Regions from separate parts of the Homo sapiens genome. Here regions 1 and 3 are each linked to region 2. Evidence: fine-mapped expression QTL. A gene starts in region 2. Each other region holds a variant in brackets. All regions are shown on one strand. Distances are between the middles of the regions. Region 1 overlaps AXIN2 (axin 2). Region 2 holds the start of AXIN2 (axin 2). Region 3 has its middle 23 kb from the start of AXIN2.

Evidence for each region. PIP is the estimated chance that this variant, and not a neighbour inherited with it, causes the effect.
Region 1: its variant is fine-mapped to the expression of AXIN2 in whole blood (INTERVAL, PIP above 0.99).
Region 3: its variant is fine-mapped to the expression of AXIN2 in whole blood (TOPMed, PIP 0.93).

What each region holds. Positions count from the first base shown.
Region 1 is chr17:65,524,460-65,534,777 of GRCh38, forward strand. AXIN2 (axin 2) reads right to left here. Exons shown (of 11, transcript NM_004655.4): 10 at 9,453-9,620; 11 at 4,104-5,643. The coding sequence ends at 5,517. Among named protein-coding and RNA genes, the nearest start is that of AXIN2, 32 kb to the right of the region's middle. RefSeq lists enhancers at 3,452-3,746, 5,569-6,083, 6,084-6,596, 7,111-7,623. The variant G/A (reference allele first, on the strand shown) is at 6,643.
Region 2 is chr17:65,556,935-65,566,898 of GRCh38, forward strand. It overlaps AXIN2 (axin 2), which reads right to left and starts at 4,714. Exons shown (of 11, transcript NM_004655.4): 1 at 4,516-4,714; 2 at 872-1,802. The coding sequence starts at 1,686. RefSeq lists a silencer at 4,728-4,877.
Region 3 is chr17:65,579,954-65,590,271 of GRCh38, forward strand. No RefSeq gene overlaps it. Among named protein-coding and RNA genes, the nearest start is that of AXIN2, 23 kb to the left of the region's middle. RefSeq lists an enhancer at 3,547-4,081. The variant A/G (reference allele first, on the strand shown) is at 4,760.

The DNA.
Region 1 (10,318 bases), 32 kb before region 2:
AAGATCGGGGGGGATTAAGGCAACAGGACGCTGGTGTGCACATGAGTCCCCTGGAGAGGCGGGAAACACGCAGGTCCCGTCTAGCCAATGGAATGGGGTGAGCCTCTGCCTCTCTCAGGCTCCCACGTGAGTCCACTCCATGGTCCTCAGACCACACTAGCAAGAGCCTGGGGGAGGGAGGGAAAGGTTTCTGGAAGAGTTGGGTCTTAAATTATTTGGGGACAAGGAATAGAGAAGCTGACAGCCCAAGCCATGGGTTTTAGCATTTTCTCTGGAGGCACAAATCCCTTTAAGAATCACATAAAAAATATAGACCCTTGCCTCAGAGGAAGGCATGCGCAGGTGATACTGTGAACAGTTTCAAGGGCTCTCAACTCCCAGAAGCACATCCACATGGGATTAGGAGGCCCTAAGTGTTAATATGACAGAGAAGCACAAAAATGGGCCCCTCTTAGAACAGGCAGAAATATACAGTTCCAAAATATATAAGAGCTCCTACAATTCAATAACAAGAAATCTAATAGCCCAATCTTTTTTTTTTTAATTGGAGATGGAGTCTCACTGTGTTGCCCAGTCTGGTCTTGAGCTCCTGGGCTCAAGCGATCCCCCAACTTTGGCCCCCAAAGTGCTAGGATAACCCAATCTTTAAACGGGTTAAAGACTTTAATAGACATTTCTCGGCCGGGGGCGGTGGCTCATGCCTGTAATCCTAGCACAGGATTGAGAGGCCGAGGTGGGGGAATCACCTGAGGTCAGGAGTTCAAGACCAGCCTGGCCAACATGGTGAAACCCCGTCTCTACTAAAATACAAAAATTAGCCGGGCATGATGGCAGATGCCTGTAATCCCAGCTACTCAGGAGGCTGAGACAGGAGAATCGCTTGAACCTGGGAGACAGTGGTTGCAGTGAGCCAAGATCACACCAGTGGACTCCAGCCTGGGTGTCTGAGCAAGACTCCATCTCAAAAAAAAAAAAAAAAAAAAAAAAAAAAGACATTTCTCCAAAGACACACAAATGGCCAACATGTATTTGAAAAGATGCTCAGTGTCACTAACCATCAGGGAAATGCAAATCAAAATCATGATGAGGTATCATCTCATACCTATTAGGATGGCTATTATCACAAAAAAACGAGTGTTGATGAGGATGTGGAGAGATTGGAACTCTTGTATACTGTTGGTGGGAATGCAAAGTGGTGCAACCACTGTGGAAAACACTTCGGAGATTGCTCAAAACATTTAAAATAGAGCCGCCATATGATTCAGCAATTCCACTTCTGGGTATTTATCAAAAATCATTGAAATCAAGTTCTTGCCAGGTGTGGTGGCTCACGCCTGTAATCCCAGCACTTTGGGAGGCCAAGGCAGGTGAAATACTTGAGGCCAGGAGTTCAAGAACAGCCTGGCCAACATGGCAAAACCCCATCTCTACTAAAAATACAAAAAATTAGATGGGCATGGTGGCGGGCGCCTGTAATCCCAGCTACTCGGGAGGCTAAGGCAGGAGAATCACTTGACCCCAGGAGGTGGAGGTTGCAGTCCATTGCACTCCAGCCTAGGCGACAGAGTGAGACTCCATCTCAAAAAAAAAAAAAAATAGAGATGATCAAGGTCTTGAAGAGATATTGGCACTTCCTTTTTTATTGCAGCATTATTCACAATAGCCAAGATGTGGAAATGACCTAAGTGTCCATCGATGGATTCGTGGATAAAGAAAATGTAATATAAATACACAATGGAATACTATTCAGCCTTAAAAAAAAGAGTAAAATCCTGTCATTTGTGACAACACGGATGAACCTACAGCACATTGTGCTAAATGAAATAAGCCAGGCACGGATTGACAAATACTGCAGGATTCCAGTTATATAGGTATCTAAGTCAACTTTGCAGAATTAGAGAGCCAAATGGTGGTTGTCAGGGGCTGGAGTGAGGGGGTAATGAGTTGCTGGTCAATGTGCGTAAAGTCTCAATTATGCAAGATAAATAAGTTCCAGAAATCTTCTGTGCAACACTGTCCCTATGGTTAACAATACTGTATTGTATACTTAAAAGTTTAAGAGGGGCCGGGTGCGATGGCTCACTCCTGTAATCCCAGCACTTTGGGAGGCCGAGGAGGGCAAGATTCACTTGAGGCCAGGAGTTCAAGACCAGCCTGGCCAACATGGCGAAACCCAGTCTTTACTAAAAATACAAAAATTAGCCGATGTGGTGGCACATGCCTGTAATCCCAGCTACTTGGGAGATTGAGGCACGGGAATCGCTTGAACCCAGGAAGCGGAGGTTGCAGCGAGCTGAGATTGTGCCACTGCATTCCAGCCTGGGCAACAGAGCAAGACTCTTGCCTCCAAAAAAAAAAAAAAAAAAAAAGTTTAAAGATGAAAACAGGGGCCAGGTGCAGTGGCTCATGTCTGTAATCCTAGCACTTTTGGGAGGTCTCAGGAGTTTGAGACCAGCCTGGGCAACATAGCAAAACCCCATCTCTACTAAAAAAATACAAAGATTAGCCAGCCGTAGTGGTGGGCGCCTGTAATCCCAGCTAATCAGGAGGCCGAGGCCTGAGAATCGCTTGAATCCAGGAGGTGGAGGTTGCAGTGAGCCGAGATTGCGCCATTGCACTCCAGTCTGGATGACAGAGTGAGACTTTGTCTCAAAAAAAAAAAAAAAAAAAAAAAGAATGAAAACAGGAGATAGAAACATGAGTGATCAACTAGTCCAGTTCTCTCTCACAAATGCACCTTAGAAGATGCCAGAAACCCGCTCATGGCACCCAGAGGGTGGTGGTGCTGGGCCTTCAGTCCAGTTTGTCTGAGGCCCAAGCCCCAACCTCATCACTCTCCTCAATCAAGAGGCCTGAAGATAGAGATGAAAAGCCATCCACAAACCCCAATCTTCACCACACACAATAGGTTGCATCTCTTCATCCTTTTGTCTTGGAAAGAAGTTTACAATTCGGAAAGTGTTGGACACCCTGGTATGAACCCCCATTCCAGCCAGGAGGGGAGGGCACAGCACCTGCATGGTTAGGGACAAGTTCAAGGCATCAGAGCTCCTCCAGCCTCTTGCCAGATGCCCTCACATCCTCGCCTTCTCAGAGGGTAACTCAGGACTCTCCCAGCAGCCTTGACAACTCCTACTACTGCCACCACTCCGAGGCTACTGGGTTCGAGTCCATCCCTACCCCGCATGGCCAGAACCCTGGCCTTTCTCTATGCTGCCGGCCTGACGCCAGTTGGCAGCAGGAAGAACAAGCCAAGCAGATCCACTGCAGACCACCGAGTTCATTTCATGAAAACTCAGCACACAAGAAGTCAAGTCCAACTGCAGTTACAGATCCTCTGTTTTTAAAAAGGGTTCTTCCTAGGACTCCACTAAAAAGACCTGCTTTCCCAGATCTAAAGTATGGCCTGGCATGCAGGCCAAGTGCTCAGGATACAGGGAGGGCACGTTTGTTGAGCGGGCAACTGCCTGCCGAGGTCCTTGGCCACATAAGCACACCTGTCCACCGAGCGGTGCAGAAGCTGCCTGTGTCGCCTCCTCCTGAACCACCTCCTTGCTATGTTCCCGACACCTGACCGGCCCTGAGCCTGATGGCTCACGATAAAATACTGATAGGATTAATAGTCAGCCTTGTTGATCAGCTCCCAGAATGGGGAGGGTGCCTGGCTAGCTTTGATCTCTAAGTCCATTGGCCCCACGTGGACATTCCAGGTCTATGAAACCATCTGCTGAACGGCTTTCATGTCGGAGACACCTGTTGAAACTCCTGGGAGGGCCTCCTCTCATCCCCTGGTCCCCTGCACCTACCTGGCCGGACTGGAGACAATCTGCCCAGGAGGAAGAGGCTGAATGGAGGTGTTACAGGGAAGAGGACCCCCAAAGGAGATGTCATCTACAGCCTGCTCCAAGGCAAGAAAAGCCTCAGCCAGTAGCCAGGTGATTTGAATAAATGGCTTTACAAAACCTCCAGGTGGGTCCAGATCAGGTCAGGGCTCAAGGTCAGAGACGGGCTTGGGCAAGGTAGGAAATCAAGCACAGATGTCTACACACAAAAGGGCCCCTCGGCCCTGTTCCCACCCTGGGGATTCAAAGACGAGGCCAGTGTTTTGAAAAATATAAAATTTTAATAAAGGCTACATCTCTTAATTACAATAATTATTGTACCAAGTAATTTTCCTTAAATGAACTCTTTATAATGCATAATTTACAGTATAAGTAGAACAAAATGTCATGACAAAAGTCATTGAGTACAAGACTTGTAATAAAAAGGCATAAAATATATTTATACATAAACCCCTTTCAAAAAACAAGGGAAAGCTTGAGCCCTCAATATAGGGCGACACACGGAGCGGGTGACCGTGCAGGTACAGGTACTGTACTGATTTAAAGTCAAGCACTAGAGATAGTGGATTAATACTCTTTTGCCGTACACTATATACAGATGTATAGTACAAGTAACAATGGCAAACAGAATGTACAGATTAACTTAACACAAAAACCCGAACATCAAAATGAAGGTGTGTGGAGGAAAGGTGCTGCTGGGTCTCCCTACAACTGTTCATTTCTTTGTGGGGCAGGGGGTAGTTCCTGAATGGCTGTGGTCCAATGACTAATGTAAAACAAAAACAGAAACAAAAAAAACAAGGAACTGTCATTTCCACGAAAGCACAGCGGCAGTGATTCTAGCAGGCCTCAGGGCCCTGGGCCTGGGGAGGCTACATGAGGGGGAGCCTCAGTCACAGGATCAACCTGGGGCCCGAAGGAGCAGGGTTCCCTGCCTCTCCCTCTGCAACAGATCATCCCATCCAACACAACCCCCAAAATGTTGATGATGACGCAACATGGTCAACCCTCAAGACCTTTAAGACAAAACAGAGCAGCATAGGAAAAAAAAAAACAAAACGCACCAATTTCTGCATGTGTCAATGGTAGGGCACCATTTTAAAAAGTCTGTCTAAAACAGTCTGTCTTCACTTGGAGGGACGTAGTGCAAAGCATAATTCCTCTGTTAGTGAAGAAACCATGAACGCACTCCTAGCTCAACTCCTAAGTTTAGTCAGAACAATTAAAACTTCCTGTCTCCCCCTTCCAAGTTTAAAGCAGCATATCCATAAACTGGGGATGGGGGAAATCAACTGTTCTATAAATATCAGTAAGGATTCCTGTTCAGGTAAGCTATACACAGTTTCTCTTAGTTTATGGATTTCAGATCCCTAGGAAGTCATATATTATGTATGGCAGTCTCTCAAATACAGGCAGCATCTTCAATAGCCAAGAGTGGTCATGTTTTTAATAAATAGTTCAGGCTTTTCTTATCTCAGTCAGTACCCAGCTCATGAATCATGAAAATCAACCTCCCCCCGCCCTCCCGAAGGCCCACTGGCCGATTCTTCCTTAGACTTTGTCTTCTTCATTGGTTTAATTTTCCTTCAAAATGTTTTGTCGCAGTTGCTCACAGCCAAGACAGTTCACAAGAGCTTCGGGCTCCAACAGTTCACCAAAGCCAGACCCCAGGGCTCAATCGATCCGCTCCACTTTGCCCAGAATCCGGCCTTCATACATCGGGAGCACCGTCTCATCCTCCCAGATCTCCTCAAACACCGCTCCACAGGCAAACTCATCGCTTGCTTTTTTGAAGTAATACCTTAAAAGGAAAACCAAAAAAGCTTCTTGGTAAACTGCATTTTCCACATTGTTGAAAAGAAAAGCATACCAACATGGAGGACTGAGGTATCCTAGGAATTTGCTATGGCAGGTGTGCCTGTACACTGTTGCGCACATCTGCTTTAAGACGGCAGCTGGGACTGGCCACACCACAAGAAGCAGGTGGGCCGAGATGATGAAGGCCAGGCACCCACTGAGCAGCAGCCTGGGCTGGGCCTGCCACCTGCAATCTTCAACCCAGCACCTCTGCTGTCTCCTGACACGTATACACTGTGAAAAGCAGAGCTGCTTTCCCCCCGCCAACCTTTTTCAGCAGTGGGGTGGGGGAGGGAAGGGAAGGACAAATGCCTGCAGTTCCTTTGCAGCAGGAGCCAAGCAGGTCCTTCAAAGAGACTCCAGACTATCTCCAGGTTCAGCCATCCTGAACCCATCACACCTGGAGAGCCGGAACCTGCCGAAGTCTGTAAAAGGCTGACTTCCAGATGGTTTAGCAGTCCAAAGGCCTCTCGGCCTTCCCATCCTCCAGGTCCCAAGTGCAACACTCCTGGATGGCCCTGGCACAGCCACACAGGAGGCAAGCCAGCCCAGCGCAGCTTCCCAGGGCCGAACAGACGGCACTGGCCCCATGATGCCCTCCCCTCTTCTCCCCATTTCCAGGCCTCTTCTCCCATCCCATCCCTCCAGGGTCAAACACCAAAGGCCCTTCTATTATGCCCGTTGATTAAAGGCTCCTTTCATCCCTCCCCAGCGTTCTTTCTTCTGAGGCTGTTTAATTGTACAGATGCAAATGCCTGGCCTCTCAGGAGTGCCACATTCGGAAACAACTGCTGTCCTCTTGGGCCAGGCCCACCCCTAAACCCCTTCCGAGGAAATTAAGCAAGGGCCTCTTCCTTCCCTGTCCCCAGCCAAGGGAGACCCCTCAGAGGGATTAAACTTGCCCCTGCAAGCTGTCATTTCCAGCCCATAAAGGCCACTCACA[G/A]AGGGAAGGTCACAGTCCCCTGGGGGGATGGGAGAACCTTTCAAGCATTTAATTGTGTCTCAGGGTTATGGTTGGGCTTTGTCTTTTCCCTTTAAAAAAAAAAAAATTAACTCCCCTTGGTTAGAGCTCAATTTTTTCCCTCTTTAATAAAGGCAAGCCAAATACTTTCGTAGGAGATAAGGCTAAATACAGTGAACAGCTGGGTTTAGTCAAGGTTCTTTGTTTTTAGCATTCCTGACCCAGCTAATGCAGTGGGGTGAACAACGGCATGGCTCTGACTAGGCAGCACTGAAGACACGTCATGTCAAGGGGTCAAAATTCTCGGGGGAGCGTGAGAGGAGACAGTGAGAAAATGGGGAGGGGCTCTGTGCACAGGAGACTCAGGACAGTGGGGGGAAAAGTCACTTCTCCACATAAGAGGCTCAAATCCCAACGCCACCCTCCGTCAGACCCCTTTGGCCCCAGCTCCGACCCCTCCAGGGTTTACCAAGTTGGGCTTTCACAGCATGTCTGAGCAAACACGCAGCGACCTTTTACATAATTGCAACCTCCTCCAGAGAGGAGAGAGGCCACATTCTCTCAGCCCCACCCCCAGGACTTCAAACACACTGCACTGCCCTCATTTTCTCCAAGAAACAGGCTTTTCCACTGCAACATGCTTCATGTGGCAAACTTTGCTTTCTTCTGACATCTGGCACCAACAGCGTCTGGCGCGTCTGAAGGGACTGTTTGCTTTTTGAACCCCTGCCATGTTGAGATTACTCAACGCATCCCAGGTCCCCCCCACCTCCCACCCCTGCTCCACGGCCCCAACCTCACTGGGTCTTTTTTATTTTTTTGAAGGGGGGATGTATTTGTACAAATTGAGATGTTGAAGCACCAGCCCTGCTGGGAGGGTGAGGCGTGACACCCTGTGTCCCTGTCCTACCCCAGGAGGACACTGAGTCTAGCTCAGGCCCTGCAGAGATAAGGCAGCTGGGAGGGCCTTCCCACAGCCTGATCCACTCAGGAAAGAACTGGAGAGGATCGGAGAGTTGACCATTTGTGCAAGTCTTTGTGCATTAAAGGGGAGGCCAGGGCTTCAAAGCCAGGCTTATTAACTGTGCCTCAGGGAGAAAAAAAAAAAATCAGAGCCAGATGTGGCCACAGCAGCTGAAGGAGGCACTTTCCCCACAAGCCTATGCCAGCGCCACATGGCTCTTCTCCAAGGTCACCTGCAGTTCCACTCGAAGTCCAGCCGAGACAAAGCCAAGATCAAAATGAATCCCCAGAGGGACACACTTGTGTCATTAGTTTCACCTTGTGTCTTTTCAAGATAAAAGCAGCAGCAGCAGCAGCCAGGCCTGTTCCCCCACCCCTTTGATACCTTTTCACAATTGTCTCTGCCCAGGTATAAAAGGGACTATCCAGACCCAGCAACACGCCCTGCTGGCCAGTTACCTCCAGGGGCTCAGTCCAACCTCCATCCCCTCCCCACTCCAAAGAGAATCACTTTGAGCCCCCGCCCAAACTAACTCCCAGATGAAGGTGGCTGGTAAAACTATACAAGGCCTGCTCTAGAGGGGAGGGTGTCTCAGAGCCCTGCAGGTGGACTCATCCCCGTCCAGGAGCCCATGCCCACCTGGCAGGTTACCAAGTGCTATTCAGAGTTTTCCACTCACACCCCTGGCCCTGGTGGCGGCAACGGGTTCACACCTGGGAATAGACTGTGGTCCTGGCACAGGGACAACAGCACACAGCTGAGGAGTTGGAACTCTGTCTTGGGTGTAGACCCCAGAGTGAGCACCTCCTTAAACTAGGGTGCCCCTGTCTCACCCTTGTCCCAGCCTGGAGCCCTAAACCTGGGAAACCTGGGACAGAACTGGAGCAGAATCCACACATTCTCTTGGGCTGCAGGCCATGGAGAGGGGCAAGGGAGGACTCCAGATGAACTGAGGCAGAGTCATCACCTGCTCCTTACGAGGGAAATGATCAAGAGAAGGAATGGCCTAGGGCTGGCCCTCATCCTCCTCAGCTCTTGAACCCTCTCAAGGGCCCTAAAAAGTCAGCATGGACCTTCTCAAGGGCACCTCCGTCCACTCTGCAGACAAGGTAAGGAGACCAGGAAGTTCCCTTCCTGAAGCCCCTGCAGGGGAGAAGGCAGCGGGGCCCAGGCCTGGACAGGAGGAGTAGACTGCCCTATTCACCCTGTGCCCACCCGCAGGTCCAGCCCCTTCTTTGTTATGGACAAAGGCGCATCTCTGCTTCTAATGGCCCATAAAATCCAGGGAGGCTGTTCAGGTGGAAAGGCAGGGTAAGAAAAACACGGGGGACTTTTCCTAGGCATGGTTCCTGACTATTTGGAGCCTTCAATGTGGGGGTCTCTCCTAAACTCAAGCCAGTAGGGCGGCGCTTCCAGACCCTCCCTCCTAATCAGTGTGCCTGTCCCTCTTTTTGCTCCCTGCTCCCCACTCGCCCACAAGCCCCTCAATTGCAGGTAAAGCCTCTGCAGTGTGGCCTGAGCCCCACTCTCCTGTCGGTGCAAGCAGCTGCTCCTTTTCTCTCCTCAGTCTGGTTCACCTGGTGGAAAGAGCCTGGCCAGGTCCCCCAGAGAACCCTCCACGCAGCCTCCCTCTTGCGGCTGCTGCTTCGTTATTGCTGCTAGCGGTGAGGGGAGAGAAGAAATGAGAAGGGAGCCTCCCCCAGCGCCTGCTGAGCCCCCTCCCACCCTGCCCCACCTAGGTCTGCTCAGCCAGGGGAGCTGCTCCAGGCTCTGGCTCTTGGTTCTGAGCAAACAAACTGAGAGCAGAAAAAAGCCACAGGACTCTTACCTATAATTTCCCTTTTTGCTGAGCTGCTCTTTAAAGTGGCCCAGGGTCAAGCTCTGAGCCTTCAGCATCCTCCGGTATGGAATTTCTTCCCCACAGAAAAAGTAAGTGACAACCAACTCACTGGCCTGGAGCGCGTGGACACCTGCCAGTTTCTTTGGCTCTTTGTGACTGAAAATAAGATGGAATGGAACAAGTTTAGCATTTTAAAGCAGACACACATCTAAAGCAAACACACACGTGCGCACATGTGCATAAGTGACAGGGTATCCAAACACTAGGGCTGCAATTGTAAACCCAAAGTGGGGGCTGGGGCAGAGCCCCACATCCCAGAGTCAGGCAGCTCTGGGGGACACACAGTCCAACCCCACATGTGCTGCATGCAGCATGCAGAAAAGGATGATTTCCTTTTGGTTGTACAAATTGGTATCATTTCCCCCACCGCCACCAAATGAAAGTATACGGCGGCCTCTTTCAGGCTGGCATAAATGGGGTGCTTCCTCAAGAAGATGAGAGAAGAGAAATTATCACAGAGATGCCGGGTCTCACCTGGATTGGAGAGTGCTAAAGAGACAAACCCAGAGCAGGACACCTTTGGGATGGCATGATCTCAGAATGCCTAAAGCCCACCCCTTATTCCAGCAGAATGAGAACAACTAATGGGGGTTATCACACAGTCATGTCCATTTCCCCATTTCTTCTGAGATTTTGTAGAATGGCTTGAAAAAAAGGCTGCTAGGCCGGGCGTGGTGGCTCACGCCTGTAATCCCAGCACTTTGGGAGGCCGAGGTGGGCGGATCACTTGAGGTCAGGAGTTTGAGACCAGCTTGGCCAACATGGCGAAACCCTGTCTCTACTAACAATACAAA
Region 2 (9,964 bases):
GGAGGGGAGAAAACAGAAAAACTCATTCTAACAAGAGGTCTGAAGTTGCCTCCAAAGGTCAAGAATCTTAAGACTTGGCCATTCTGCAAAGAACTATTTGTCTTTGAAGCCTCAAAGAGAAAGTACTCCAGGGCCCCAGTACTCCCGGGCCAAGATCTCTTCTCCATCAGCACTAACAAAATAATCAACTGAAGTCTGACCCTCGGACTCATGAGCATTTAAAACCTGGATTAATATGCCAGCAAGCTCTAAAGGTAAGGGTCCTTCATTTGGGAAAGTCACAGGACCTTCCCTAGTTAGAGGCCTTTCTTGCTGGGTAAATATCTAATTCTACAAAGGGAACCACAAGCTCAGTTAAGCCAATTGCTGGCTCTTATCTTAACAGAAAAGTTCAAAAAAAAATCCCACTTACCCCTCAATGGGTGCACATATTATTTCCTGTGCCTCCACCACAACCCAGCTGCCTCCCTAGCCACATTAATTCCACCCTCTACTGATTAGTGGTGAAGTGACCCCTTCCAAAACCGGCGCTTAGTGGATCTGGTGACTCAGAGGCATCAAAAGCTGCTGTCCTCTCTCTCTCTCTCAACCTCTTCTGAGACACTAGCCCGGGATAATAAGTAACCCACATTAGTGAATACTGCTTGCCACTGTTTGAAGTCAGCACTGGAAGACTGCAGGTATTTACTGTATGTGCATCGCTTTCCCCCTGTTTCAACAACAAAAAGCAAGATCAAAAAGGGTTCATGGCCAGCAGTCCTAACTCAACAGACCTGTCAGTCTCTGCAGCACACCCATCCACCCATCCACCATACTTAAAACATCTGCAAAGTCCACAGCATCAGCCCACCCGCCCCCGTCAAAGTCTTACCTGTATCCACTGTCAACAGTTTCCGTGGACCTCACACTCGCCGTGGCCCTCAGAGTTTTGCTGGACAAGCCAACCACGGTTGGCGAAAGTTTGCACTTGAAGTCGGCACAAGTCCACTCCTCTTCTTCATTCAAGGTGGGGAGATAGCCACACACGACCTTTAGGCTCCCGAGTCCCCCATTACTCATGTAAGCTGTGTTTTCTCCCCCACTCCTCACATATTCGAGGTATATATCAGAAGTCAAAAACATCTGGTAGGCATTTTCCTCCATCACCGACTGGATCTCGGTCTGCGCCTGGTCAAACATGATGGAATCAATCTGCTGCTTCTTGATGCCATCTCTTATGTAGGTCTTGGTGGCAGGCTTCAGCTGCTTGGAGACAATGCTGTTGTTCTCAATGTACCTTTTGTAGATCGCTTTGGCTACTCGTAAAGTTTTGGTATCCTTCAGGTTCATCTGCCTGAATCCATTGCAGGCAAACCAGAAGTCTAAGGTATCCACGCATTTCTCCCTCTCCAGGAAAGTTCGGAACAGGTAAGCACCGTCTTGATCGCCCAATAAGGAGTGTAAGGACTTGGTCCACCGGGTCAGAGGGGAATCCGGAGATGCCCGCCCCTCCGGCTCCCCCAACCCATCTTCGTTCCGCCTGGTGTTGGAAGAGACAGGCATGGGTTTGGTGACCTGGCCCTTGCCCACCCCTGGCTGACACGGTGGGGTCTCCCCTTCTTCCCCTGGCACTGGGGGCCGCGGGGCATCCTCACGGAAGCTGCTGCTGGGGTCCGGGAGGCAAGTCACCAACATAGCGCTACTCATGGTGAGGGAGCTCTTCCCACTGAGTCTGGGAATTTTTCTTCTTCCAGTTCCTCTCAGCAATCGGCGTGGTCTCTCTGTCTCTCTCAAGTCAGCAGGGGCTCATCTGAACCTCCTCTCTGGAAAGAAAAGGAAGGGGGGAGGTGGGGAGAGAGAAAAGGGTATTGATCTAATCAAAACCAGATCTACCCAACATCAAAGCAAGAAAGTAAACAGGCTTTTCAACTCCTCAAATTCAAATCAAGCAACCCAGCTATCTGCGAGGTGCTCATCTAAAGTATCAGGCGCTGCTTTTCAAAAGCGAAATCTGAGCTCCCTGCACACTTTTCGGGGTTGGGGGTGGGAGGGAGCTGTTGGGAAAGAGGCGGGGAAGGTGAGAGGAAGGCAAGAGCTGGGGACGGCAGGGGGACACTGGAGGTGTAAGACACAACCTTCCAAAAACCCACTCGGCCAGGGCGCACGCAGGGCAGCTCAGCCCGCGCCTCGCCTTCCCTCCCTTCCCCTCCCCCGATACCATCAACTCCAAAAAGGCGCACTCCCAGCCGCTAGGCTGTGTGCAGGTGAAACCAATTTCGGTATATTTCCCCACTCGGCCCTGCACAGATAACTCGAGCTCCAAACGTGCCCTTCCCCGGCATCTGGTTCCCATTCTCCCCACCCACCCCCTCCCTCTGCGCTCCCTCTTCCCACTCCTTAAAAATTCAGAAGATCCTGGCCCAAGAGAAGCCCGCCCAGCATAGGCGGATTGGGCTCCCGGACTCCCAGATTCAGCACGCAAACACCCCCTCCCCAACTCAGATTTGAGTGTTCGCTACGCGCCCCCTACCCCCACCAAGAATCCAGCTCAGTCAACACCTCTGTCTTCCCTGACCTCCCCCCAAACCAGAAACCAACTCACTCAGGGGAGACTTTCATCTTCAAACTTTGAGAGAGAGCTGAGAAGCCTCGGAACCGTCGCCCCCGTGCCCCCAACCCACCTCCCGGATCCGCGAAACCTACAAAACTGGATCACCAGCCGTCTCACGCCACTACTGCCTGTGCCAAGAATCCCAAACTCTACTGATTTCAAGCCTGTCTTTTTTCCAAAGAAAAAAGTCTTATCTAACCAATAAACAAGCTGCTTTCCCTAGCACGGAAAAGATCAAACTAAGAAGGGTAGGGGCTGAACGGGGTGCAACCCCGGGCGAGAAGCCAGGGACCCCGGATCTGGGATGGGTGCACGCTGAACCCGACCAGAGCCTCGAGCCGCGGGGCTGGGCGGCGCGGCCCACGGAGAAGTGGGGCTGCCGTTGGCACCGCGCTACCCGGGCGGTGGGAGGTGGAGCGGCCCCGTTACCTGGAAGACGAAGGCCGCCGAAGCCAGGCTCTCATGTCCTCCGAGCCCCTCCGGCCCGGTCCCCCGGCCCAAATGCAACTGAACGCCTCCAGAGCCCTGGCGGGCACACCTCGAGGCCGGAACCCCGGGACACGCCAGCAGCGCCCCGAGCCCGGGCGGGGGGTCGGTCCCCGGCGCCGCCGTTTGCAGAGGCGCCCGCAGAAAAAGCACAGAAAGCAGCAGCCTAGTCCAGAAATGGCGACGCGCGGAGTCTCTGCCTCTCCGCAAAAGGGGCCGGGGCGGCCACGGGCGAGGGGCCCGGGCCGGGAGGAGGGACGCGAGGGACACGGGCGCCCCGGACTTGGGCCGGTCCTGCGCGCAGACTGAGCCTCCGCCAGCGCTGTGGGCCCCTTAGCGCGGACCCGCGGCAGGGAGGGGAAAAGGGGAGGGGGAAGAGAAGTAGGAGGAGAGGATGGGGCGGAGGAGAGGCGGGGGGCGGGGGAGGGCAAGCGGGGGGCGCCGCTACCCTTTCATCCCACCTCCCAAAGGCACTCCCGCGCGCACTCACACGCCGACTCACATCCATAACCGCGACAGCGACGCGACCCCCGGGGGGTATCTGCCCCCTCTCCGCCCCCGCCACTGCCGCCACTCGGATAAGTCTCCTCTCTGGGCCCCCCGCCAACCCGGTCACCGCGCTGGGGAGGGGGCTCCGGCGCAGGGCGCGCAAGGCTGCCCGGCCAAGCCCCCCGGAACGCTGGGCGCCGGGTCCGCCGCTCCCCTCCGCGCCGGCCCCTAGCGCGCCCCGAAATAGCCGGCCTGCCAACTTCAAAGGGCCGCCCCGCACATCAAAGCGCGCGGTCCGCCCGGCCGCCTCGGCCTCGGCACTCACCATTGATCCCCGCGCGCGCTCGGCGGCGAGACCTCGCAGGCGCCCCTGGCAGGGGCCCGGCCCCGGCCCCCGGCTCGGCTCGCGGCGGCAGCCCCGGGCCCCCCCGGGCCGGCCGCGGCGTCGGGGAACATGGGGAGTCGTGCGGCGGGGGAGGGGGTGCGGGAAACAACAATCCCGGGTTCAGAGCGAAAGCCACCGGCCGGGGAGGGGGAACGGCGCGCCCCGCCGCCCCTTTTATGCAAAAGATCCGAGCGGGCCTCCGCCCCCGCCCGGCCCGGCTTTCAACGCAGGTCCTGTTTCCAGCAGTCACTCGGCGCACCAAATGTCCTCCGGGCGCTTCCAACAAAAACTGCGCTGTGGATTTAACTGTGCACTTCAAAGGCGCGAGCCGAGCGCACGGTCCTGAAAGGGAGGTACGCGCCGGCCGCGCCCCGGGCCGCCCCCCGCAGCCCCGCCACCGCTCCGCAGGGCCGCCCCGCCCGCGCCCCCCTCCAGGCCCGGCCTCCGCCTGGCCGGGCCCCCTCCCGCCCCCCGCGCCCACGCCGCGGCTCGGCGCGACCTCGCCCCCTGTAAGAGGGGGGCTTTCTTTGAAGCGGCTCCGCTGGGGCCGAGCTTCCACCCCCACCTTTTACAGCAGGGCCTTCGGCGGGCGCCTCGGCCGCCGGGCGGCCCCGAAATCCATCGCTCTGAGGGGTTATTTTTATTTCCCGGCTCTCGGGCTGTTACTGAGTTGCCAGGACCTTATCAAAGCGCAGCCGGCTCCAGCCGACTCCCCCGGGCCAGGCTCGCGGAGCCAGTGATCCCGCCGCGCCAATCACAGCCGCGCTCGGCCGGCCCGCGCCGCCCGCCTTAAAGGGACAGCGCCCCGCGCCCGCCCCGCCCCGCCCCGGCCCGCCCCCGCCGCACGCTCCGCTCCCGCGTTAACCCTTCCCCGGCCTCTCCTCCGCCCCCTGCCAGCCCCCCGCGGCCCCGAGGGCATTCTCAGCCCGAGTTCTGATTTCTTCTTTTAAGTTCTCCGGCCTCTTTGCTCCCGCCTCCTCCCCCTGCCTGCCCTCGCTCTCCCCGGCTCTGGAATGCAACAGTTTCTGGTAGCATTATGGCCATCGCAAGAACTGCAAGCAAGCAGATTTTTTTTTTTCTATCATCAAACGCTTTTCTACCTCTATTCAAGTTTCCCTGGGAATTTGGGCTTGGAGGACTTTATAAAGGGAGTTCCGGCCCTGGGGTTGGCTGGCCCGCTGTCATAGGGCGGACTCGGGCCCAGCCGCTGGAGGCGTGTGCATGCCTGTGCGCGCTTGTGCACGTGCATCTGAGTTCGGGTAAATATAGGACTGCAGTTGGTGGATGAATTGCGTTTGTGCATGTGTGAAAGTGGGGTGTGAATCCGCCAGTATAGGCCTGAGTGCTAACACCAGTTAGGAGGCATACCTCAGTGCCCTGAAGACCTAGGTCCAGCTTCCTAACCTGCTGGCCATAAGACCCTCGTAGCGGCACACATTGGCCATCTCTCCCAAACAACTGCATACCCGTTACTCTTCCAAAGTCCCCTCTTCTGCCATATGTTACATATTAAACCGATAGGAATATCTTTTTTCCCACTCCAAACGACAAGGCATGCATGCCGTTTTAATGTATCGAAAACTCCTCACCCCATTGTCACCTTTGAATTTCTCCCACATTTGCCCAAAAACGTTTATAAGGCACACACAACCTTCTCTTCTCCGTTAAAATGAGAAAATATGTCACAAACCCAGAGCATTGTGTATTTATTCTGCTGCTGCTATAGAATGATTCCTTATGTTATGAGCGAATAATTAACTTTTCTTCCTTTTAAAAAACAAAGGGCCGGGGACGGTGGCTCATGCCTGTAATCCCAGCATTTTGGGAGGCCCATGCTGGAGGATCATCTGAGGTCAGGAGTTCGAGACCAGCCTGCCTAATATGGCGAAACCCCGTCTCTACTAAAAATACAAAAATCAGCCGGGTGTGGTGGCACGTGCCTGTAGTCCCAGCTACTCGGGAGGCTGAGGCAGGAGAATCGCTTGAACCTAGGAGACGGGGGTGGGGGGGTTGCAGTGAGCCAAGATGGCACCACTGCACGCCAGGCTGGGTGACAAAGCGAGACTCCCTCAAAAAAAAAAAAAAAAAACACACACACACACACACATAAAGGTGTGAACCAAAGAGATCCAAGAAGTGAAAGGCAGAGTCCTGGCCTCAGAGCTGTGCAAGGCTCTTACTCTCCAACTTAATGGATGACGAGCCCTTTTAAATGCGAGATGGCCTGTCATTAGGCCTTCAGAACTTTAAAACATGCAAGAATTGTGGCTCTATCTAGGTATCCATAGAAAAAGAGAAGGAAGAGGCTGGGTGTGGTGGCTCACCCGTGTAATCCCAGCACTTCGGGAGGCCAAGGCAGGCGGATCACCTGAGGTCAGGCATTCGAGACCAGCCTGGCCAACATAGTGAAACCCTGTCCCTACTAAAACTACAAATATTAGCCAGGCGTGGTGGGGGGCGCCTGTAGTCCCAGCTACTCGGGAGGCTGAGGCAGGAGAATCATTTAAACACAGGAGGTTAAGGTTGCAGTGAGCCTGGGCGACAGAGCAAGACTCCATCTCAAAAAAAAAAAAGAAAAGAAAAAAAGAGGAGGAAGATCCACCACCCATGATCTGCTGGAAAGGGGCAGGTGGCAGGACTGTGCGCCACCTGCCCTCAGCCTAAGGGACTGTGACAAGGGACTAGAAAGCTCTTAGACTTTCTAGTCTAAGACTCTGGACTCTGGCTCGTGGGTGCCATGACAGGTGGCCGCTCCTCCCCAAAACCTGCCTTTCGGTGCCCATGGTCTGCAGCTCCAGGCTCTCGACCCCAGGCAGCCAGGTTGGCATAAAGACAGCAGTACCAGCCCTGAAATGTGGCCCTGAAGCCAGCCAGGAAGGCCAGGGAAAGAGTGTGGCCCGATGACTCATCTTTGCCTTAGGACAACTGCTGGTGTGAGGAAACCAGTGGGCTCTAAAAGCCCCGGCCTGCTGGTATTCTGGGGGGTCAGTGGCCCATGGACCCTCTTAGCCACCAGCTCTGAGCTGGCCCAGGGCCAAGAACACAGCCACCACCTTTGGCCACCCCAGGAGTGCCAAGAGTAAAACTGTCACTGTGGTTCCAGGGAGTCTTTGGGCCACAGAGGGTGTTATTACTGGAACAGAAATGTAGACAGAGGGGTATGGATTGCCATAAAAGTGTCTACCATATAAACAACAGTAAAGTCACACACACACACACACACACACACACACACACACACACACACACAATGTGGGGGGTGGGGGAGAGAGAAAAATCAAAACATCTAAAATCAAAATAAACAATGTTCAGAAAAAAGAGGTTTTCAAAAAGGAAGTGGAAACTTGGTCTTTGTGGGTGGTTTTCCTCTCCTCCCAGTTGTCCCCACCGACCCGTCACTGCCTCCCCCAACCAGCCCTAATCACTGTAGGCTCAACTTTAACCAAAGGACTACCTCATTATCCCATGGCTGCGACTGTAGCAAGAGGGGACTGGGACTGGGACTGGGGACCCAGGAGCAAGGCCCGGTTTGGTTTGGATCTTCTCGGTCAATAATAACTGCTCTGAGGGCCGGGGTGCAGTGGCTCATGCCTGTAATCCCAGCACTTTGGGAGGCCAAGGCAGGTGGATCACCTGAGGTTAGGAGTTCGAGACCAGCCTGACCGACATGGAGAAACTCCTTCTCTACTAAAAATACAAAATTAGTCAGGCATGGTGGCGCATACCTGTAATCCCAGCTACTTGAGAGGCGGAGGCAGGAGAATCGCTTGAACCCAGGAGACGGAGGTTGTGGTGAGCCGAGATCGTGCCATTGCACTCCAGCCTGGGCAACAAGAGCAAACTCCGTCTCAAAAAATAAATAAATAAAAAATAACTCCTCTGAGAGCATGGTTTCCAGAACAGGTGCTCGGGTCACTTTAGGGCAGTGACTCCCTCCACCATCACCCCTGGCCTGTCCCCTTTCCTACAGCTTTATATCTGGTGGGACACTTCCCTCCCAGCAGGAGGCTGGGCCAAGTACTGGAAAGCCCTCTCTCTAGCCTCTGGGTCTCTGACTACTTGTTGATAATATTTCTAGAGGAGAATCCAAAGTCCTGTGCTTATAGCAGCCCGTTTCTCAAGATAGCACGTTTTCCATTTTCCCCTTGTCCCTGGCAGCAGCGCTATCATGTGACTTGTTGTAATCCTGCACGGTTGCCTGGAAACTGGAAAGCAAGGTGATGGATTTCTGCACATGCTCACTCGCCCCCCCGCTCCACCTTTAAAGAAAAACCCTACGGAGGATAAACAGTCCACTTTGCCTAAGTGCAGACAAGTTTAATAAAGCAGAGAGTGATTCTTTGCTGGAATTATATACTGGGCTGAAATCCTAGAATCCCAGAAAACAAGGACTAAGGGCTCCCTGGGAGGCATCTGGCCAGATCTCTGACCTTTAGTCAGCCCCACAAAAACCACTGTGGAGGGGAAGTCACACCAGCTGGGACTTCAGAGGAGCTGAGACCCAGGACACTGCTCTCTCAGATTCAGTAACTTTGTCTTTTATTCCTTTGGAAAAGTGCTGCCTTAGACAATGTACCTTTGTTTGGGGAGGAAGGTGAAGAGAGACACAGGTAACCTTTCCTAAGACTGGAGGTTACCTAACCACACGGAGTTTCCATTTGTTCACCTGTAGACTGGAGGAAACCTCCCCTGCAAAGGCTGTTGTGAGCCTGAGCAATACGATAAATGCCTGGCACAGAGCTGGACACACAATAGAACATGGCGGTTATTTTCACAGAGTAAGTCTGTTCCCTCAATAGCCTGTTACCTATTCTGGGAAGAAACTCCCTATCTCCAAAGCAAAGATACCGTCCATTGGGAGTGACGATCTGGGGAAGAATGACCCCAGGAGGCTGACCATAGGGGGCCTAAAGGAGATAAAGGAGGCTGTGCCCTGCTACCATCTTTCAAGGATAGTCCTATGCAGAAAGAAATAAGCCCAGGGGCCATTCAAGAGTTATCTAGTCCAACCCTTCATTTAAGAAACCAGACAAATTGGCTGGGTGTGGTGGCTCACACCTGTAATGCCAGCACTTTGGGAGGCTGAGGTGGGCAGATCACCTGAGGTTAGGAGTTCGAGACCAGCCTGTCCAACATGGTGAAACCCTGTCTCTACTAAAATTACAAAAATTAGCTGAGCATGGTGATGCATGCCTGTAATCCCAGCTACTCGGGAGGCTGAGGCAGGAGAATCGCCTGAACCCGAGAGGCAGAGGTTGCATTGAGCGGAGACTGCGCCATTGCACTCCAGCCTGGGCAACAAGAGCGAAACTCTGTCTCCAAAAAAGAAAGAAAGAAAGAAAGAAATCAGACAAATTAAGCAAAGAGAAAGTGAGATTTCCCCAGGATCACTTTGCCCATATCAGAGATGAGCTGGAACTTCTGAGGGGTCCTGACTCCTGGCCCAGCCTCTTTTTCCTCCACACCATAGTGAGGAGACCCAGGGAGGGGCTGGCTGAGATGGAGGGGGTGAGACCATCTGGAGGTCTTGACTTTTACAACAGGACTAATACATACAATCTGGGATACTTTCCTGAAAGAATCACAACAGGGCTTCTGTCTGAAATCCCTCTAAGGCACGCTTCATCCAGCCCCTACCTGTAGGTAGGTTGCCTTGGCTCTGCCAGCTGGGCTACCCACAGCCTGATCTGGGACAGTTTGACCCACGTCTTTTAGAGTGGCAGCCATTTACATGGGCATCTCCGTGGAGTTGATCCACCTAAGGAGGAATGGACCTACTTCCTCTCCCCTTTGCAGAGGAGGGACTGGGAATGCCAAGGTGGAGATTTTGAAGCCACAAGGGGAAAAGTAAGGTTTCCCTAAGAAATCCCATCTTCAAGGCCAGGTGCAGTGACTCACACCTGTAATCCCAGCGCTTTGGGAGCCCAAGTAGGTGGATCAGCTGATGTCAGGAGTTCAAGACCAGCCTGGCCAACATGGCAAAACCCCATCTCTACTGAAAATACAAAAATTAG
Region 3 (10,318 bases), 23 kb after region 2:
GTCCCAGCTACTTGGGAGGCTGAGGCAGGAGAATTGCTTGAACCTGGGAGGTGGAGGTTGCAGTGAGCCGAGATCATGCCACTGCACTCTGGCCTGGGTAGCAGAGTGAGATTCCCATCTCAAAAACAAAAAACAAAACAAAACAGCAACAACAACAACCAGTACAGAGGATGGGATTGTGGAACGTTTTTTTTCTTGCTTTTTGTATTTGCATTAGTATGTTTCTGTTGCTGGCCACCCCAGCCCCTTCCTGAAGCCAGGCCTGGCTGGCTATTTTTTGTACCATGTGACCCCCACCCACTTCCCCCTTCCGCCTTCGCAGGCACCGCTGACTGGGATGTCACTTGTGGGTAGCCAGCTATAGGCAGGCCAACACCATGTGACTTGAGTAATCTGGCCTAGAATGATGAGCTGAGTTATTTGTTCAGCTTTCTTCTTGAGCTCAGAAATGTGAACTGGGAAACAAAGAAAAAATTTTGCTCCACTGGATTGAAGCCGTGGAGGGGACCAGAACACTGCTAGAGGAATGGCCACCTTGGGCGAGGGGCTTGTTGAGGCTATGAGGGGGCAGGGGCCAGAGGCCAGCAGAGAAAGCCAAGTCCTGGGGACAGAGAAGTCAACAGCAGCCACCTTGGCCAATTCCCCCACAAGCAACGTTATTCTTGCAACACACCCACATTTTCCCTTCAGGTCAACTGAGAGGGTCTCTGGTCCTTGCAACTGAAAAATGTTATCTTACACCTTCCAAAATTTCTATGGCTCTATACTATTATTATTATTATTGCTTTTGAGACAGGTTCTCACTCTGTGGCCCAGATTGGAGTGCACCGGTGCTATCACAGCTAACTGTGACTTTGAACTCCAGGCCTCAAGTGATCCTCCTGCCTCAGCCTTTGGAGTAGCTAAGACTACAGTGTGTGTCACCACACCTGGCTAATTTATTTATTTATTTGTTTATTTTTATTTTTATTTTTTTTTGAGACAATTTCACTCTTGTCGCCCAGGCTGGAGTGCAATGGGGTGATCTCGGCTCACTGTAACCTCCGCCTCCTGGGTTCAAGGGATACTCCAGCCTCATCCTCCCGAACAGCTGGGATTACAGGCATCTGCCACCATGCCTGGCTAATTGTATTTTTAGTAGAGACGGGGTTTCGCCATATTGGCCAGGCTGGTCTCGAACTCTTGACTTCAGGTGATCCACCCACCTCGGCCTCCCAAAGTGCTGGGATTACAGGTGTGAGCCACCACGCCTGGCCCTGGCTAATTTTTTTTTTTTTTTTTAATTTTTTTGTAGAGATGGAGTCTGGCCACAGTGCCCATGCTGATCCTGAACTCCTGGGCTCAAGCAATCCTCCCTCTTCACCCTCCCAAAGTATTGGGATTACAGGTGTGAGCCACCGCATACAGCCTATATAACTTTTAATAAAATAGAGAACCACCAAAAAGGGAAATCCACAGCATGTCAGGTGACCCTGCCATTTTGGAATGCCTTCTTATACCCAGTCACATACTATAAATTCGCCTGGTCTTGTGTCTTTCAACCAGGGCTATAGAAGAGCTAGAGTTCTAGGCTGTTGGGACATTGTGCACCCCTGGATGTCCATCTGGGGCTTTGCCATTAGACAGTCTCAGCCAGGCCTGTTGGAAACAAACTGCCAGGGAAACTGGGCCTCGTCACCTTTGACAGGCACCTTGGCATTGCCTATCTTGTGCTGATCACATCCTCAGACAACGTTTGGTGGATCCCCATTCTGTACTGCCTCACACACTCTCAGCTCTCTCTCTGTCTCTCTCTCTCTTTTTTTTTTTTTTTTTGATGTTGTTTCACTCTGTCGCCCAGGCTGGAGTGCAGTGGCACGATGTTGGCTTACAGCAACCTCTGCCTTCCGGGTTCAAGCAATTCTCTTGCCTCAGCCTCCAGAGTAGCTGGGATTACAGGCGCCCGCCACCACATCCAGCTAATTTTCATATTTTTAGTAGAGACGGGTTTTCACCATCTTGGCCAGGCTGGTCTTGAACTGCAGGCCTCAAGTGATCTGCTCACCTCGGCCTCCCAAAGTGCTGGGATTACAACTGTGAGCCACTGCGCCCAGCCTCTCTCTCTCTTTCTCTCTCTCACACGCAGACACTCACACACGTGTGCACACACACATGCATATGCTCACACACACACAGATGCTCAGACACACCCAAACCAGGACACCAGCAGCCTGGAAATACCGGACAAGAAAGTGGAAGAAAATATATAATGAGTTTGATAGAACCGGGAGTCCATTTCCTGAGCGAGGGGACTTTTGTGAGTGAGTACAGACAGATAGGAGTGATAACTTTCCTGGCCCTATAAGCCTCTAGCATTTCCATCCCCTCACACACTTCTTCCCTTGAAGTTTCTGTTCTTCACACTTCCTGCTATCTCAGGCTCTTGGCCAGATCTGCGGACTTGAAAGGCACAGCAGAATGGCCTCAAATGTTCTTCCTCCTGGATAAAATGCACACAACCACGCTTACCTGTCTATTAGCGGACTTTCTTCCTATTTGCCTGAAATGTGGATTGCTGAACAGAAGAGGCCCAGGATGAAGTGGGAGAGAGGGACCGAGGAGAAAAATGGGAGGAGTATGGACTCTTCTGGTTTTTTTTTTGAGATGGAGTCTCGCTCTGCCGCCTGGGCTAGAGTGCAATGGTGCAATCTCAGCTCACTGCAACCTCCACCTCCTGGGTTCAAGCGATTCTCCTGCTTCAGCCTCCCGAGTAGCTGGGATTACAGGTGCCTGCCACCACACCTGGCTAATTTTTTGTATTTTTGAGTAGAGATGGGGTTTCACTATGTAGGCCAGGCTGGTCTCGAACTCCTGACCTCGTGATCCACCTGCTTCAGCCTCCCAAAGTGCTGGGATTACAGGCGTGAGCCACCGAGCCCGGCCATCTTCTTAAAGTCTAGCTTAGCGCACCCACCAAGCCTAGTGCACCCACCACCATCTCCCTCCAGGCAGACAGGTTTGATGCATCCCAAAGAAAACTGGCTTTGGTGACCTCAAGTCTGGGCCCATATCCCAACTTCAGCATTTAAAAGCTGTGTAAGGCAGTGGCTCACCTGTAATCCCAGCACTTTGGGAGGCCGAGGCAGGAGGATTGCTTGAGCCCAAGAGTTCGAGACCAGCCTGGGCAACATAGCCCCATCTCTACAAAAAAAATTAAAAATTAGCCAGGCATGAAAGCTTGCACCTGTGGTCCCAGCTACTTGAGAGGCTGAGGCTGGAGGATCGCTTGAGCCTGGGAAGTCAAGGCTGTAGTGAGTTGTGATAGCGCCACTGTACTCCAGCCTGAGCGACAGTATGAGACCCTGTCTCAAACAAAACAAACCCAACTCTGTGAGCTTGAGCAAATTTCTTTTTTCTGATTTTTTTTTTTTTTTTTTTTTGAGACGGAGTCTCGCTCTATCACCCAGGCTGGAGTGCAATGGCATGATCTTGGCTCACTGCAACCTCTGCCTCCCGGGTTCAAATGATTCTCCTGTCTCAGCCTCCTGAGTAGCTGGGATTACAGGTGTCTGACACCACAACTTGCTAATTTTTGTGTGTTTTTAGTAGAGATGGGGTTTCACCAGGTTGGCCAGGATGGTTTCGAACTCCTGACCTCAGGTGATCCTCTTGCCTCAGCCTCCCAGCTGTAATCCTCAGCTGGGATTACAGGTGTGAGCTACCACACCTGGCCTAGCTTGAGCAAATTTCTCACCCTTCCTGGGCTTCACTTTTCCCAGTTGCAAAATGGGAATAAGCCGTTCTGTTACGGGAAGGATAAAAGGAGAAATGGACATAAAGGTCCATGCATACCGCAAGTGACTTTCTTCATCTTAGGGAGTCAGACTGTGGCTGCCTTCCCCTCCCGCTCCCCTCTGGCTTCCTCCTGGGAATATGTCCCTCCCAGGAGGCTGGTGGGGGCTGGGCAGTCACCCCAGGCTAGGGGGGCATCCACCTTGCAAACCCTTCCATAGCAGACTGACTGCTTGCTTTGCAGACTGTCAACGGGCAGCGCAGTCCGGGCCCAGGGAAGGGCTAGTGGCAGCTGCAGCTCTGCGACCAGGCTTGGAAACACGTGTCAAACCCTATTCCAACCAGATGAGGCTGGCCTGCTTCCAATGGCCGCTTTCCATCCAAGGTCTGGCCAAGGGGAGCTTTGCCCAGATCCCCTCCACAGGCAGCCCAGGCAGCAAGTCCTATTTGTTCCCCTGAGTCCTCGGGTCCAGACTGACAAGCTCACCTCTCTATTCCGGAGGCTCTGTTCAGAAGGTCCAAGCCATGAGTCATGCAGCCCTGCACTGCTGGGGAAGGTGGGAAGGGTAGGTGCAGGCTCCAGGGCACACAGCAACTGGAAGAAGCCATCTGCCCATCCTGTAGGTATGGTCCTCTCCCTGACAAGGCTGGTCCTCTCCCTGACAGGCAGGGGAAGGAGCTGGGTAAAAGAAGAGGACGAAGAGATGCTCTCCAACCACCACAACATGGGGCAAACATAGGCCTCCTCCAGCGAAGGGAAATATCCCATATGCAGCAGATGGGCCTGAGGCAGGTGGCCAGAGAGCCAGTGACTTCTCTTTTTGCTGCTTAGAAATGGTGGCTGAAAAAAACACACATGCCACCACCACCCAAAAAAACTAGAGAATGCAGCATACCAGCAAAGAGTCACAGAAGGAAAGGAAATCCAAATGTTTTGAGTTTAGCTATTAAGCATAGTTTCCAGCGAGTGTACTCATGTCTTGAAATG[A/G]AACAGATGAAAGCAACATGTGTCAATGGTTGTAGGAAGGCAATAATGTCATCAACAGGAAATAAAGAAATTGAACACTGAAGCCTCAGCCCAGAACTTAACTCTTCTCTTGCCCAGGTCCCCAAGGCTTTCTGCATGAAGACTGAGGACACTTCCTGCAAGACTAGGTCACTGCCTCTCTCCACCTGCCTGGAAGGTCCTTGAGGCACCCCCTGCAAGGATCACGAGCACCTGAGAAGGACTTGCTTTGTTTCTTAAGGGATGTGGCCTTGGAAGAAAGGGAACCCCAAGGGACCCTGGCCCAGCTGAAGAGGAAGCTGCACAGCCTCTCTCTCCATGAAGAGGCTACAAAGCCTTGGCTGTGGGATCACAGTTCCTGGCAGGGACAGTGCTGGCTGCTGGAAGAGCCAGCAAAGCCAAGGCCAACGTGCTGGCACTAAAAGGGCTGGTGGCGCCACCAGGAAGTCCCGCAGGCCCCAGGAGGCTCTGATTGCTGCTCAGGGCCCAGAAGCTAGGAGATCCCTTCTTAGCCAACCCCCCAACCCGAGGCAGAATGCAGAGCGCATACACGGGCCCCTCTGGCCGATCCAAGAGAACCTCAGGAAGAGCAGGGACTTTGGGCCTTGGAAGGTGAGGCTAACGTTCACATGCCTTGAGAGTGGCCGGGATGACTCTTGCAGGCCAGTCTCGCTGGTTGCTTTTATCTCTGATGAATCCACCCTATTTGGCTTTGGGGGTGCCTGACTCACTGTTGACATTGTATGTCACTTGCAAACAATTCATAAAACTTAAATATCAAACAGATCACACTGGATCAAATAGATCAAACAGATCAAGTGGGATCTTGGAGTGAGAGCATTCATGAGTTCAGTTTCAGACCTGGCCTTAGAGCTTTTAGGTCCAGGGGTGCTAGACAGCACCATGGGCTGCACCTGTTCTCTGCATCAGAGTCCTGGGGGAGGTCTACACAAAGCCGGATTCCAGAGCTTTTCTCTGGAGACTCAGGAGGTCAGGCTGAGGGGTCAGCAGCTTAGCCCAGTGATTTTTAGACCACCCTGGATCAAGATAGCCTAAAACAATGGATGTAATTGTCATTACATACAGGTAAAATTAATGGACAGAAATGCCTCAATTCTTTCTCCCATAATTAAGAAAAACCAACCCTAAAAAATATTTGGTAGGTCTTGACACTGAATTCTAGAACAGGATCTTTGGTATTTGCCCAGAAATGTACATTTGGGTTTACTGTACCCATGTGCATTAGTCAGCTTGGGCTGCCATAGCAAAACACCATACACTGGGTGGTTAAATCACAGATATTTACTTCTCACAGTTCTGGAGGCTGGAAGTCCAAGATGAAGATGCTGACGTCTTTGGTTCCTGGTGAGGGCTCTCTTTCTGGCTTGCAGAGGGCTGCCTTCTGGCTATGTCCTGCTATGGCTGAGAGACAGAGAGAGAGCAAGCTCTCTGGCATCTCTTTTTTTTTTTTTTTTTTTAGATGCAGTCTCACTCTTATTGCCCAGGCTGGAGTGCAGTGGCACGATCTCAGCTCACTGTAGCCTCTGCCTCCTGGGTTCCAGCGATTGCCCTGCCTCAGCCTCCCCAGTAGCTGAGATTACAGGCACACGCCACCACGCCCGGCTAATTTTTGTATTGTATTTTTAGTAGAGATGGGGTTTCACCATGTTGGCCAGGCTGGTGTCAAACTCCTGACCTCAGGTGATCAGCCTGCCTCAGCCTCCCTAAGTGCTGGGATTACAGACGTGAGCCACTGTGCCTGGCCTTTGTGTCTCCTCTTATAGGGGCACTAATCCCACCATGAGGGCCCCATCCTCATGACCTCATCTGAACCTAATCACCTCCCAAAGGCCCCATCTCTGAATATTGGGGGTCAGGGCATCAACATGGGAATTTTGGGGAGACAGATTGGGTCCATAGCACCATGTTTCATGGAGCTCCTCTGGGAGCATCACCAGGTTGTTCTGACCCACATGTCAGGTGCCTGCCAGGTGGGCACTGGCTTAGACTCGGGGGCAGTGTCAGCAATGGTCAGACCCGGACTTTTGCTCTTCAGGAGCTCTCATTGTGTGAGAGATCAACATAGAAACAGGGTAACGACCAAGGTGGAGATGTACCCAGGGTGCTAGGGGAGCAAAAGGGGGCACTGAGTCTACTTTACAGGAGATGACAAGGGGTAAAATCAGCTCAAGGAAACTGAGAAGGGCAAACCTGGAAGATGGAACAGCATGAGCACAGGCTCTGAAGCTCGACGCAGCCTTGGGAGAGGGGATGGCTCCCTGTGGAGCCGGACAGTACGTAACCCACAGGGGGCTGTCTGGAGTGGAAGTTGTTGTGGCCAGATCAAGGAGAAACCCAGGGCTCTGCTAGGAGTATGGCCTTGACTTCGCAGATAAATTGTCTTAAACTGGGTAGTGGAGGAGCTACGTAACCTGAGCTGGGTTTTAGAAAGCTCCCTGTTGTGGGCGTGTTGGGGCTGGATGTAATGAGAGGTAGGATTCAGGCAGCAGGGACCCCATGGGAGTCCATTACACGAATGTAAGCGATCATATTTGTTTAGATATTCACATTTTATTTCAGCAACTGTCTTAGATAGGGCTCCCCAGAAACTGACTCTGTGAGGGGAATGCATGTGAATTACTAGGAAAACTGTAAGGAAAATCCTGCAGGGGAGCGAGGGAATGGAAGGGAAGGAAGCCAAGCAAGGCTGTGACACCGAGCAGTGTCCACAGAGGGGGGACTTTGGTTCCACCCATGGGGAAATCTGGAGACAGCGTAGCCCACTGCTCACCACTGTTCTGGCTTGGGGACAAGGGAGCTGGAGGATTTATACCCCAGCATCTGTCCACCACTAGTTAAGGGCTGGGAGGAGATTAAAGGTATGCAGACACTTGCTGCTCTCCCAGTTGCCAGCAAAACACATTCTAGAAGCTTCCACCAGAGAGGCAGCAGGAAACGCTGCGAGTGAAGCAGGAAGAAGCTGGTCTCCAGGGTGGGGTGGGGGTGGGGAGAGAGGGGGTTGGAGAGCAGAGCACTGAGGGCATCTGGTGCCATGTGAGGCTGCCCAGGGACTTCCAGTGCATCTCATGACTAGCCAGGGCCAGCCAGGAATTCCTGCTTGGGAAGTACTTAGTATGGTTCAAATCTAGAATGTCGAGGAAAGCCCAAAACAGGACAGCCGCATCAGCTCCTTTTCCGGGATTATGGGGACTTTATAACTCGAAAAAATTTTTTCCAGCTGGGAGTGGACAAGGGATTTGGCAAGCAAGGAATGACCCCATACTGACCTCACCAGCTAACCGAGAACCACATCAGTGGCTACAATAGGGCTTTGCTGCAAGAATCGGGGCCCATCCAAGGGCTGCCACTGACTGGTTAACTAATGTGGGGAAGGCCAAGTTCCCATCCATCGGTTACTCAGTGCTCTTTATCTCCACAATCACAACGACTCTACCTGCCCTACTCATCTCTAAGATGGTTATAAAGATAAAAATGGGATTCCAGCTTGGGCAAGTTTTCCAAGAATGTTCAAGGCTTGTTGTAAGTCCATAGTATATGCCACTTCTGAAATGCTGAGTAATGTCAGACAAGGGCCAGCAGGGAGAAAAGTGACATTTACTGAATGTCCCCTACAGGTTGGCGGCTGCCTTTGCAAGCTTCATGCAGGTGATGAGAAGGTGCATAGGGAGAACTTTGACCTTCAAGGCTGGATACTGACAGAAACCTTGGTCTGTCCCTGTGGCTGCAGCTATCACTAAGGCATGTGGTCTCCACCCAAAATGCAATTAATCACTGAGCACGGGCGTTACCTCTTCAGACTTGTGAATAAACAGAGATCAAAGACAGCCAGTCAATGAGACTCTGATAGGCCTTTAACCAGGCCCGGTGCCAGCTCGCTGGCCGCCCGCACTCCTGATCCAGCCAGACACACTCAGCCACCCATATGTCAACTGCCTGTCCTGCCCCCCACCCTCCAGGGCCAGGCCAGCCTTCCACAGTGTCCCAGAACCATTGAGCTTCCAGGTTAACCTCTTCCCTGTTATAATGACGCACGGAAGTCACCTTTCTCTTGGAAAACCAGGACTGTGGATGACATGGCTGGGACACCATCCCTTTCCCCCTTCCCCTTGACAGCCCACTGGGTCCTGTCACTGATAGACCCAAAAGCAGAGCATCTCCCTCTGAAACATTCAAATCTGTACCCTAGGCCCATTTACAAAGCTGACTTGTCTGGAGCCTCAAGACTGCAAGAAAACAACGAGACTCTGACTGTAACATCTGAACTGTCAGGGAACGCCTGTATAACCTCTGTCGGCCTCTCTGCCAGGCAGGGTTTATGCCCCACCTCACTGTGGGAACCCTGGTGCCCCAGATGTGGGGATGAGAGTGAGGGGGACGGGGAGTCTGTGCCATGCTCCAGGATGGCCAGGCTCTCCTGGCCACCCCCAGTGTCTACCTCAAAGTCCCCACCCCATTGCACAGCACGGGAACCTGTGCCCACAGCTCTACAGTGTGAGCTCTTTAAGGGCAAGGAAAAGATTCATTCACCTTTGCATTTCCAGAACTTCACCCAAAGCAGGGGCCCAGCACAGGTAGGTGTCTTTCATGCGGGACCCACCACACACCACCGGGAATACTGAGGATCTGAGAGCCTGTGGGACTTGCCCAAGCTAAGCTGGTCAGTGAACGGCAGGGTCTGGACTTGAACACAAGTCTGTCTGACTTCAAAGTCTGGGCTTGTTCCAATACATTACACATATGTCTGAGCTAAGACATCTGGGTTTACAACATCATAAAAATCAAAGGTTGGCAATACGTTCCCAGCATCCAGTTTCACACATGGACCAGTTTTGTCCCAGAGCCAAGGACTGGCGACCCTGGCTTCAGGCACCCCTTTGCTGACAGGAGCTCTGGGGAAGACAGTGCAGAGGGCACTGTCCATGCAGCCTCTCTGGGGGCAAGGACAGGCCATACTACAGATGTTTTCAGTTACCACCAAGTTCTCTCTTCTCTAAGAGGATGTAGGCTGCCTTGTATAATATCTACATTAGTGGCCAGGCATAGCGGCTCATTATAGACATGAGTTACCAGCACTGGGAGGCTGAGGCGGGTGGATCACCTGAGGTCAGGAGTTTGAGACCAGCCTGGCCAACATGGTGAAACCCCGTCTCTAGTAAAAATACAAAAATTAGCTGTGTGTGGTGGCATACACCTGTGATCCCAGCTACTTGGGAGGCTGAGGCAGGAGAATCGCTTGAACCGGGGAGGTGGAGGTTGCAGTGAGCCGAAATTGCACTACTGCACTCCAGCCTTGGCAACAAAGCAAGACCTTGTCTCAAAAAAAAAAATCTAAATTAGCAGATGATTTTCAAAGTTTTTGGATTGGATTGTGGAACAAATCATATCATTTCCCTGTATCAGGCTACATTGAATATTCGCCATAATTTTATTTTATTTATTTTTATTCTTAATTTTGAGGCAGGGGCTCGCTGTGTCATCCAGGCTGGAGTGCAGTGGTGTGATCATGGCTCTTGGCAGCCT